3 separate regions of the Homo sapiens genome follow, and regions 2 and 3 are each linked to region 1. Evidence: fine-mapped expression QTL. A gene starts in region 1. Each other region holds a variant in brackets. All regions are shown on one strand. Distances are between the middles of the regions.

The links.
Region 2: its variant is fine-mapped to the expression of UBE2J1 in esophagus muscle (GTEx, PIP 0.99).
Region 3: its variant is fine-mapped to the expression of UBE2J1 in whole blood (TOPMed, PIP above 0.99).

What each region holds. Positions count from the first base shown.
Region 1 is chr6:89,351,388-89,354,151 of GRCh38, forward strand. UBE2J1 (ubiquitin conjugating enzyme E2 J1) reads right to left here and starts at 1,335. Exons shown (of 8, transcript NM_016021.3): 1 at 1,152-1,335. The coding sequence starts at 1,182. RefSeq lists an enhancer at 641-1,590 and silencers at 887-946, 977-1,686, 1,697-1,796.
Region 2 is chr6:89,923,367-89,926,130 of GRCh38, forward strand. No RefSeq gene overlaps it. Among named protein-coding and RNA genes, the nearest start is that of GJA10, 30 kb to the left of the region's middle. The variant T/C (reference allele first, on the strand shown) is at 1,659.
Region 3 is chr6:89,329,492-89,332,255 of GRCh38, forward strand. UBE2J1 (ubiquitin conjugating enzyme E2 J1) reads right to left here. Exons shown (of 8, transcript NM_016021.3): 8 at 1-466. The coding sequence ends at 188. Among named protein-coding and RNA genes, the nearest start is that of GABRR2, 16 kb to the left of the region's middle. The variant C/A (reference allele first, on the strand shown) is at 1,337.

The DNA of each region.
Region 1 (2,764 bases):
CAGTGGCTCCTAAAATATTATGACCAGTTCTACACACTTGGTCACCTAAGGACATTTCTTAGCCTGACAGCACTCAGGCTAACAAAGCTCCCTCCAATCAATATCCTCAGGCTTTTCTGGGGTTTTTGCATATTCTGAAACCTTACAAAAAACCCAAAGATTCACAGTGTCAACTCTTTCCACAAGGATGCTAGTCTTGCTAATTCCTACTGAGAAACAGCTTTTTTTGGAAGGAAATTTTAAGCAACAGCAAAAGTTGGTGAAATCATCACTAATATCCTAGAGTTTATCATGCAGAGTTAACTGTGGAGTTTCTTCCCCCTGACAAAATGTATCAAGGTACAGATAGAAAAAATACCATTTAGAGGATCCAATGATTCATTTCAAGCCTGTTTTATTAAGCTGAGAAAGCTAGTTGCTTATCTTTATAATGCACCAGAAAGTAATTAGAGGCTAGGATTGCTGGGACTGCTTGTGTAAATATAAAGCAGGATCATTAAATGCAGGAAAGGAATCGCTACGACTGAATACAGATACATTTCATATTAGCCAGTCTGGCAAAAATCAAGGTTAGCTCTCAAGAACAGGGCTCAACGAGGTGTTTTTTTGTTGTTGTTTTGTTTTGCTTTAGCTCTATAGTTAACTGGTTTAGTTACAGAACATTTCCTTTATGTCTGTAATTGTATTCGCCCAAGTGCTGCAAATAGGATATTTAAACGACCAACTCCTCAAATGTGAGTAAATCAGCCGGCAGTAAATAGAAGTAAATAGAAGTCCGGTGGCAGCGACAGGGAGGGAATAGCGACCAGGTACAGCGAGGGGGTTGATGACTATCGCCCACCGACATCACCTTTACACCTGTTCTCAGGGATGAGTTTCTGACCCAGCTCTACGGGACCAGGCGAAGATGAGAAAAGGGAGAGGCTGGGTGCTGCGGGGCGCGCTGGCCGGCCGGGGGATTGGCAGCGGACGTCCACCCGGCCACCTCGCCCTGCGGCCTGTACTTCCCGGGCAGGCGGCGGTCTCGCGTAGAGCGCGAAACCAGGAGCTGAGCCGCGAGTGGCGCCAGACGCGAGGGGACCGAGGCGGCGACCACCCCGGGGTCCAGGGTCACTCCGCCCTCCTCGCCCAGGGGCCCCAGCCCTGCTCACCCGGACTCTTCAGGTTGTAGCGGGTCTCCATGGTGGGTCGCTGGCTTGGCTCCGGCCTCCCGGGCCGCTGCCACCTCCTCTCCACGCGGCCGCTGCCCGGGTCTCAGCGCGGCTCGGGCGGACGGGGCCTGGCCGAGGAGCCTCGGCAAATGCCGCCCAGTCCAGCCTGGACTGCGGGCGGGGTGGCAAGGCTGAGTGCGGGCGAGGCGCTCGCTTCGCGATGGCGCCGCCTCCTCCACTGCGCCCCCGCCTCCCTGAGTGCCTGGCAGGCACCGGCGCCGGCCGGGGCGGCGCTGAACCGGGCGCCCGGGCTGGAGGTCAGCCTCCTCGGGTAGTCGCAGGCCCAGCCCTGCCGCGGCCGCCCGGCTTGCGTCACCCGCCCTCGTCCGGGATTTGTGAAGTTGCCCTGACGTGGCAGTAGCTTCGTGGCGGTCGGTCACTACCCAGCCGCCGCCCGCCCGGCGAAGCCGGCTTGGGGAGGTGCAGGAGCGAGCGGCGTCCTCGTCCTCTCGTCCCGGCCCTGCCCGCTGTAGGCGAGGTCCGGGACCCCCGGGCCCTCGAGAGCTCGGAGGGGGCGCCGGGCTCCGGCTGCAAAGCTGTCCGCAGCCGGCTGCCCGCGCGCGGTCCCGCAGGGTCTGGGAAAGGCTTTGTTTTTAGATTCAGTTGCTGTTGCGAGGGGCGGGGGTTAAGTGAGGAGGGGGAAAGCCAGTGACAAGGAAATGGAATAGGATTTTTTTTATTTTTTATTTTGTGTGTGTGTGTGACGGTGTCACCGCTCTGTCGCCCAGGCTGGGATGCAGTGGCGCGATCTTGGCTCACTGCAGCCTCTACCTCCCGGGCCCAAGCGATCCTCCCACCTCAGCCTCCAGCGTGGCTGGGACCACAGGTGTGTGCCACCATGCCCGGTTAATTTTTTGTATTTTTGTTAGAGACACGGTTTCACCGTGTTGGCCAGGCTCGTCTCGAACTCCTGGACTCAAGCGATCCGCCCGCCTCGGCCTTCCAAAGTGCTGGGGTTACAGGCGTGAGCCACGGCTCTGGCCAGAGTTGGATATTCATAACAATTTTTTTCTCGGGTAGTGTGTTAGGTGCACGACATGTTTTAGGCATTGCAGGAGTTTTGTTTTTTTTGGTTTGTTTAGATGTAAAAGCTGTCAAAAAAAGGAATTACATTTAATGTGAGGGAAAGCATACAAATATGAAAGGTTAAACTTCAAAGGACACACTTACTGCTTCATTGTCCAATGTGTGGGATCGAGAGAGGACTGAGTTCAAAAGACTTAAGGAGTAGGGACCTTACTAAAGGAAAGGAGGGAGGGATTGGGAAGGTGGGGAGGATAGAAAGGGTTAATCAGGTTGGGCAAGTTTTATTCTGTTATATAAAGACATAAACTCTTAAATTTGATTTGTTTTCTATTGTTAAAGTTAATCTAAATCTGTGAGTTTCTTGATGAAATTGGGAGTAAAAAAGTGAAGGATATCTAAAATTAGATGGTATATTTTAAATCATTCCCTGATGTTGTTTTCTGTATAGTAAACTGATAATCTGACTGACTGAGATATGCAAACAAAACCAAACTCCAATGCTGCTTCATTCATTCATTGTGTTGAAT
Region 2 (2,764 bases), 570 kb after region 1:
ATATATATTTATGTATAAACACCAAAGGCAATACCTTACCCATTGCTTCCAATTTTCCAGTCTTTATTTCTTATTCACTTTCTGTCATGTTGTGTCAATAAGTTTGTCAATAGGTTTCAGAGGCCTCTATGGCAACTTTTTTTGTAATTTCAATTTCTTTCACTCTGAAAAGTCTTTACAGGGTTGTCAAAAACACAGCACAAATGGAGGTTTTAAAAAACAAGTTTGAGGCTGGGTGTGGTGGCTCACGCCTGTAATCCCAGAACTTTGGGAGGCCGAGGTGTGGGGATCATGAGGCCAAGAGAGCGAGACCATCCTGGCCAACATGGCGAAACCACGTCTCTACTAAAAATACAAAAATTAGCTGGGTGTGGTGGTGTGCGCCTGTAGTCCCAGCTACTTGGGAGGCTGAGGCAGGACAATCGCATGAACTTGGGAGACGGAAGTTGCAGTGAGCCAAGATTGGACCACTGCACTCCAGCCTGGCAACAGAGCACGTCTCAAAACAACACAACAACAAAAACAAGTTTGAGCTGGGCCTGGTGGCCCACCTGTAGTCCCAGCTACTTGGGAGGCCGAGGTGAGAGGATTCTTGCGGCCAGGAGTTCACAGCTGCGGCGCACTATGATGATGCCTGTGAATAGCCATTGCACTCCAGCCTGGGCAACATAGCAAGGCCTTGTCTCTACAAAGAAGAAAAAACAAAGTCTGAAGGGCCCAGTGTAAAATGTAATGTTTCCAGTGACTGCTAGCATGTCTCTGAAGGTTTCCATTCACTGCTTCGGGATGAAGGGCACTGTCTCAGGGATGCACTTATCTTCAAGAAGAAAGAGTAAGAACTAGCCATGGAGAATCAGCAATGCCTCTTTGTGGCTAAGCAGGCCAGTGGCAGATGTGTGTCAGGATCTGCAGGAACCAGGGACGGGTGTGGAGACAGAAGGCGTCATGCTCTTGAGTGAAATGAAAGACACTTGCGTAATGGGATGTGTGGCTTTCTCCATCTCTTTGGGCCTTGATTTTTTGACACCAGGAAGTATTGTGTTCACTTGTACCACGAAGGCATAGGTGCTCAGTGAGGAGAATTGGAAACCCATTTCTGCTCACGGCACCTTCACCAGCTGCTGTTAAACATTAAGTACAATCTTGCTAATGCATCCCAAGTGGTGGGGCAGAGTTGGGTGAGGTGGTGGGTTGGAGAAGAGTGAAAGACTCTAAAATGATTTCAAAGAACAGCTCAGTTATTTCCAAATACATACAACAAAACTGCTGGCAGGGCCTGGTGTAGAAGGAACCTGTCCTCACTGCCCCAGAGGCAGATACAAATTTCCCATAAGAAGCACATGTAAAGTAGGAAAGAAAATGGCTGCTGTCCACCTGGGGCTGGACAGTGCTTAAAAGCTCTTTTGTAGCCGCGATTCCCAACCTTTTTGGCACCAGGGACTGGTATCGTGGAAGACAAATTTTCCACGGACCAGAGGCAGCGGGGGTGGGGGGATGTTTTCGGGATGACACCGTTCCACCTCAGATCATCAGGCATTAGAGTCTCATAAGGAGCTGCAACCCAGATCCCGCACATGCACCGTTCACAGTAGGGTTCGCGCTCCTATGGGAATCCAGTGCCACCGCTGATGGGGCAGGAGGTGGAGCTCAGGCAGTAA[T/C]GTTCACTCCCCAGCTGCTCACCTCTTGCTGTGCGGCCTGTTCCTAACAGGTCATGGACCGGAACCAGTCTGCGGCCCAGGGGTCGGGGACGCCTGTTTTGCAGGACGCAACAGCTGGTGAGGTTTATTTTCCTTCAATGCATGACCATTATTTGTATCACAAGAGCAGATGTCAGGGTTGAAGGTGCACATGACCATCAGTTCTAAATTACCAGGTTTTCCCACAGAAAATTTTGGGACTCTGACCCACCTGTTTTTCTCAGAGTGGATTAACTTCACATCTTCAGGCGTAGGTAATCCGCCTCTTGTACCGAAAATGTTATGACTGCGACGTTGTCACAGCAGCACACATTTGCAAAACCCATGACCTGCTCTCAGGAAGCCTTCCTTGACTCCATAGGTGCCCATGGAGACTCGCCCGAGGGAGCAGAACTTGGCAGTTTTTAATTTCCGTTTTCCCATCTGGCGGTCGCATGCACTCCTTGAAGCGTGAATCTCGGCAGCACAGCCCTGCCCTGCCCGGATACCATGCGCATGCACTGGTTACAGCCTCGCTGACAGCTCAGACCCCCCTGCTCTGCTCTAGTGGCTTTCTCTCACCTCCGAGCTCCAGTCCAGTGTTCGCTCATGGTCACTCGACCTGCCCACCATTTGATATCTTGTTTTCTCTTTACATCAAAATCGAAGACATAACTATCAAATACACTTTTAGAATACAACTTTTAAACTGTACAGTCATGCATGGCATAACCATGTTTTGGTCAATGATGGGACGAATATATGACAGCGGTTCCATAAGATTGTAAACCCTATTTTTACTGCAACTTTTCTATGTTAAGATACACAACTACTTACCCTGGTGTTACAATTGCCTACCATATCCAGTACAGTTACATGCTGCACAAGTTTGCAATCTAGGAACATCTAGTCTAGGTGTGTCATAGGCTTTCTCATCTAGGTTGGTGTGGCACACCCTGATGTTCTCACAATAGGAAATTGCGTAAGGATGCATTTCTCACAACGTACCCCCTTCACTAACCAATGCATGACTGTATGGATTCCTCAACCACAATTCTAAACATCTTTCCTTGCAACTCACTGCATCT
Region 3 (2,764 bases), 22 kb before region 1:
TAAGCAGGACGTAACTGCTAGACACAGTCTGAATGTCTAGATATATTTATACTAAACTTACAAGGATCAAAAAAAGGAATGAAGGGTAAATACAAAATAATCTTTTTGTAAACAATTCTTAGATTATACCCAATGCAGAATGTTTAATGAAGCAGTTGAGTCACAGCTCATAAGTCACAAAACCATATTATAACTCAAAGTCAAATATGTATTCGTTTGCCAGATATATTCGTCGGAATATAAGAGCTGCCAATGCCAAAGTCAGGATGACAATCAGTACAGCTGACCCACCATGATCAGTGTGGTTGTCTCTTGGCTGGTGGCCCTGGATTACATCTGGTGAAGTAGACAACCTTCTCTGACTCTGCTGCTGGGCCCGGCGCTGTCGAGGGCTCATGGAGGTATTCTTAGCTACAGGTTGGGTAGGTTGATGAAAGGATGCTGCTGAGGAATTCTGGAGTCCGTACTAGGAAATTTTAAGAAACTTTGTTTGAAACTGGCAAAGAAGATTTGTAAATACACTTGTTATCTATTCAAGAATACACAATCTCAGAGGACAACATATGACTAAGGGCAACACTACCAAGAATGATTGTTACTAATAATACATCCCTTGAGGGGCATCTAAATTTAGGTTCAAAAAAAAGTCATAAGTTAGGACAGCTTTTTGGCCTTTTAATAGTTTTATTAATATATTTAGAAAAACAATCCCTTAAAACATTGGTCTAGATGATATTTTAACACATACGCTTAATGAAAATATGTATATACATATAATGTTTTAATTAGGTTCCTATGTTTCAGATGCCTTTTGTCTCTATTTTTTTAATCATTATTTTTTTAGAGATGGGATCTTGTTACATTGCCCAGGCTGGTCTTGAACTCCTGGGATCAAGCGATCCTCCTGCCTTGGCCTCCCAAAGTGCTGGGATTATAGGCATGAACCAACGTGCCCAGCCTCAGATGCCTTTTGGATGGTATATCACTAACTAAAAATTAAGTGCCTTGATATTATAAAATTCTAAATTTTTTCCTATTTAAAACAATCATACAGCACTTTGGGAGGTTGAGGCAGGAGGACTGCTTGAGCCCAGGCATCTGAGACCAGTCTGGCCAACATAGTGAGACACTATCTCTACAGAAAAATTTTAAAACTTAGCCAGGTGTGGTCATGCCCACCTGTGGTCCTAGCTACTTGGGAGGTTAAGGCAAGAGGATCACTTGAGCTCAGGAGGTTGAGGCTTCGGTGAGCTATGATCACATGCCTGCACTCCAACCTGAGCAACAGAGTGAGACTCTCCCTTAAAAAGATAAAAAATCACATTCTTAGTTAAGT[C/A]CCTAGTGATATATATATAAATTTTTCTAGAATAACCAGCATGTGTGAGGGAGTTTTGCTTTTTATTATAAAATGAAATGGCTTATTCAGAACCTCGATCCCTACCCTGGGAAAAGGAGAAAATCTGACAGACTGCAAGAACAAAACTGCCTTCAGTGTTTTTCCCATTTCTACATTTCCCATTGCTTTTTGATGCTAAAATATCTGCATTAAAAAGCAACAGATGGCCTGATGTTATCTGAGGTATTTAGAGTTGTGGCAATCTCTTGCCTCTCCTTCAGGCTAACAACAACAAAAAAATCATAGCTTATCTGGGATTTGATGTATAACATCTCAATTAATTTATATTATACTTAATGTAAAATAACCACCCTTAGCCAAACCAGGTTTCAGTTACTTTCATAGTGGTCAAATTATATAATCATACTCTGAGATAGTTTATATGTAAATATAATTAAAAACTTAACTTGCAATTTTAGACAATTTATTGCTTGTTGGTATTTTCACTAAAAATAGTCTCAATTAATGACCTGTATCTATGAATAAGAATTCTAAGTTTTATGTACTAAATCAAAACAAGAAATACTACTATAATAACATCATTATTTGTACACTCTAATTTACTTAAACTTCTTGATTTATTTAATTGTATTCTTAGCATTTTTTAAAGTACCAATCCTAAGATTCATTCATTCAATCAACAAACAAACATTGGCAATCTACTATATAGAAGGCACTAAGCCAGGCACTGGGGATACAGTGGAGAAGCGGAAAGAGACCCCTGACCCTCACAGAACTTACATTCTGGGAAGAGAGATAGACAATAAATAATTACAAAGTAAATTACAACTGGAATAAGTATAACTGGAATATGTAACAAGGGGACTTAACATAGATTGAAAATACACAAAAGATTTAAATACATCACAAACATTAGGAGGCTGTCCTAAAAGGTGAAAAAAGATTACCACCTTCCTTTTTGTAATAGAATGCTTCTATTAGAAAAAAAACTATGAAATAAAAAGTAATTAGAAAGCTTTTTCAATATCTTGAACTAAAACATATTGACCTTAAAATTAATTCATTGTTTTCCCCTGCAATTCATAAAATTACATTGGGATCACACAAAAATGATTTAAACTCATCGCTACACACTTTTTTCTTGGACCTCCATCTTCAGTCCCCCTAGACTACCACCCTGTTCTTCTTCAACCAACTTTTCTCTGCCCAGCTCACTCTCTGAATAGGAGAGACTCACTCAAGACTATTCACTCCCACTTTACGTACGTTATTGCTGGGTAAAGGGCAAATCTATATTTGCCCAACTTCTATTTCAATTTTCCCTCACCCTTTAAAGTCTTCAATAAACTGGAGAAACAACAACAAAAAAAATGTGACTACTTAACCAAACAATCTGTTACCAAAAAG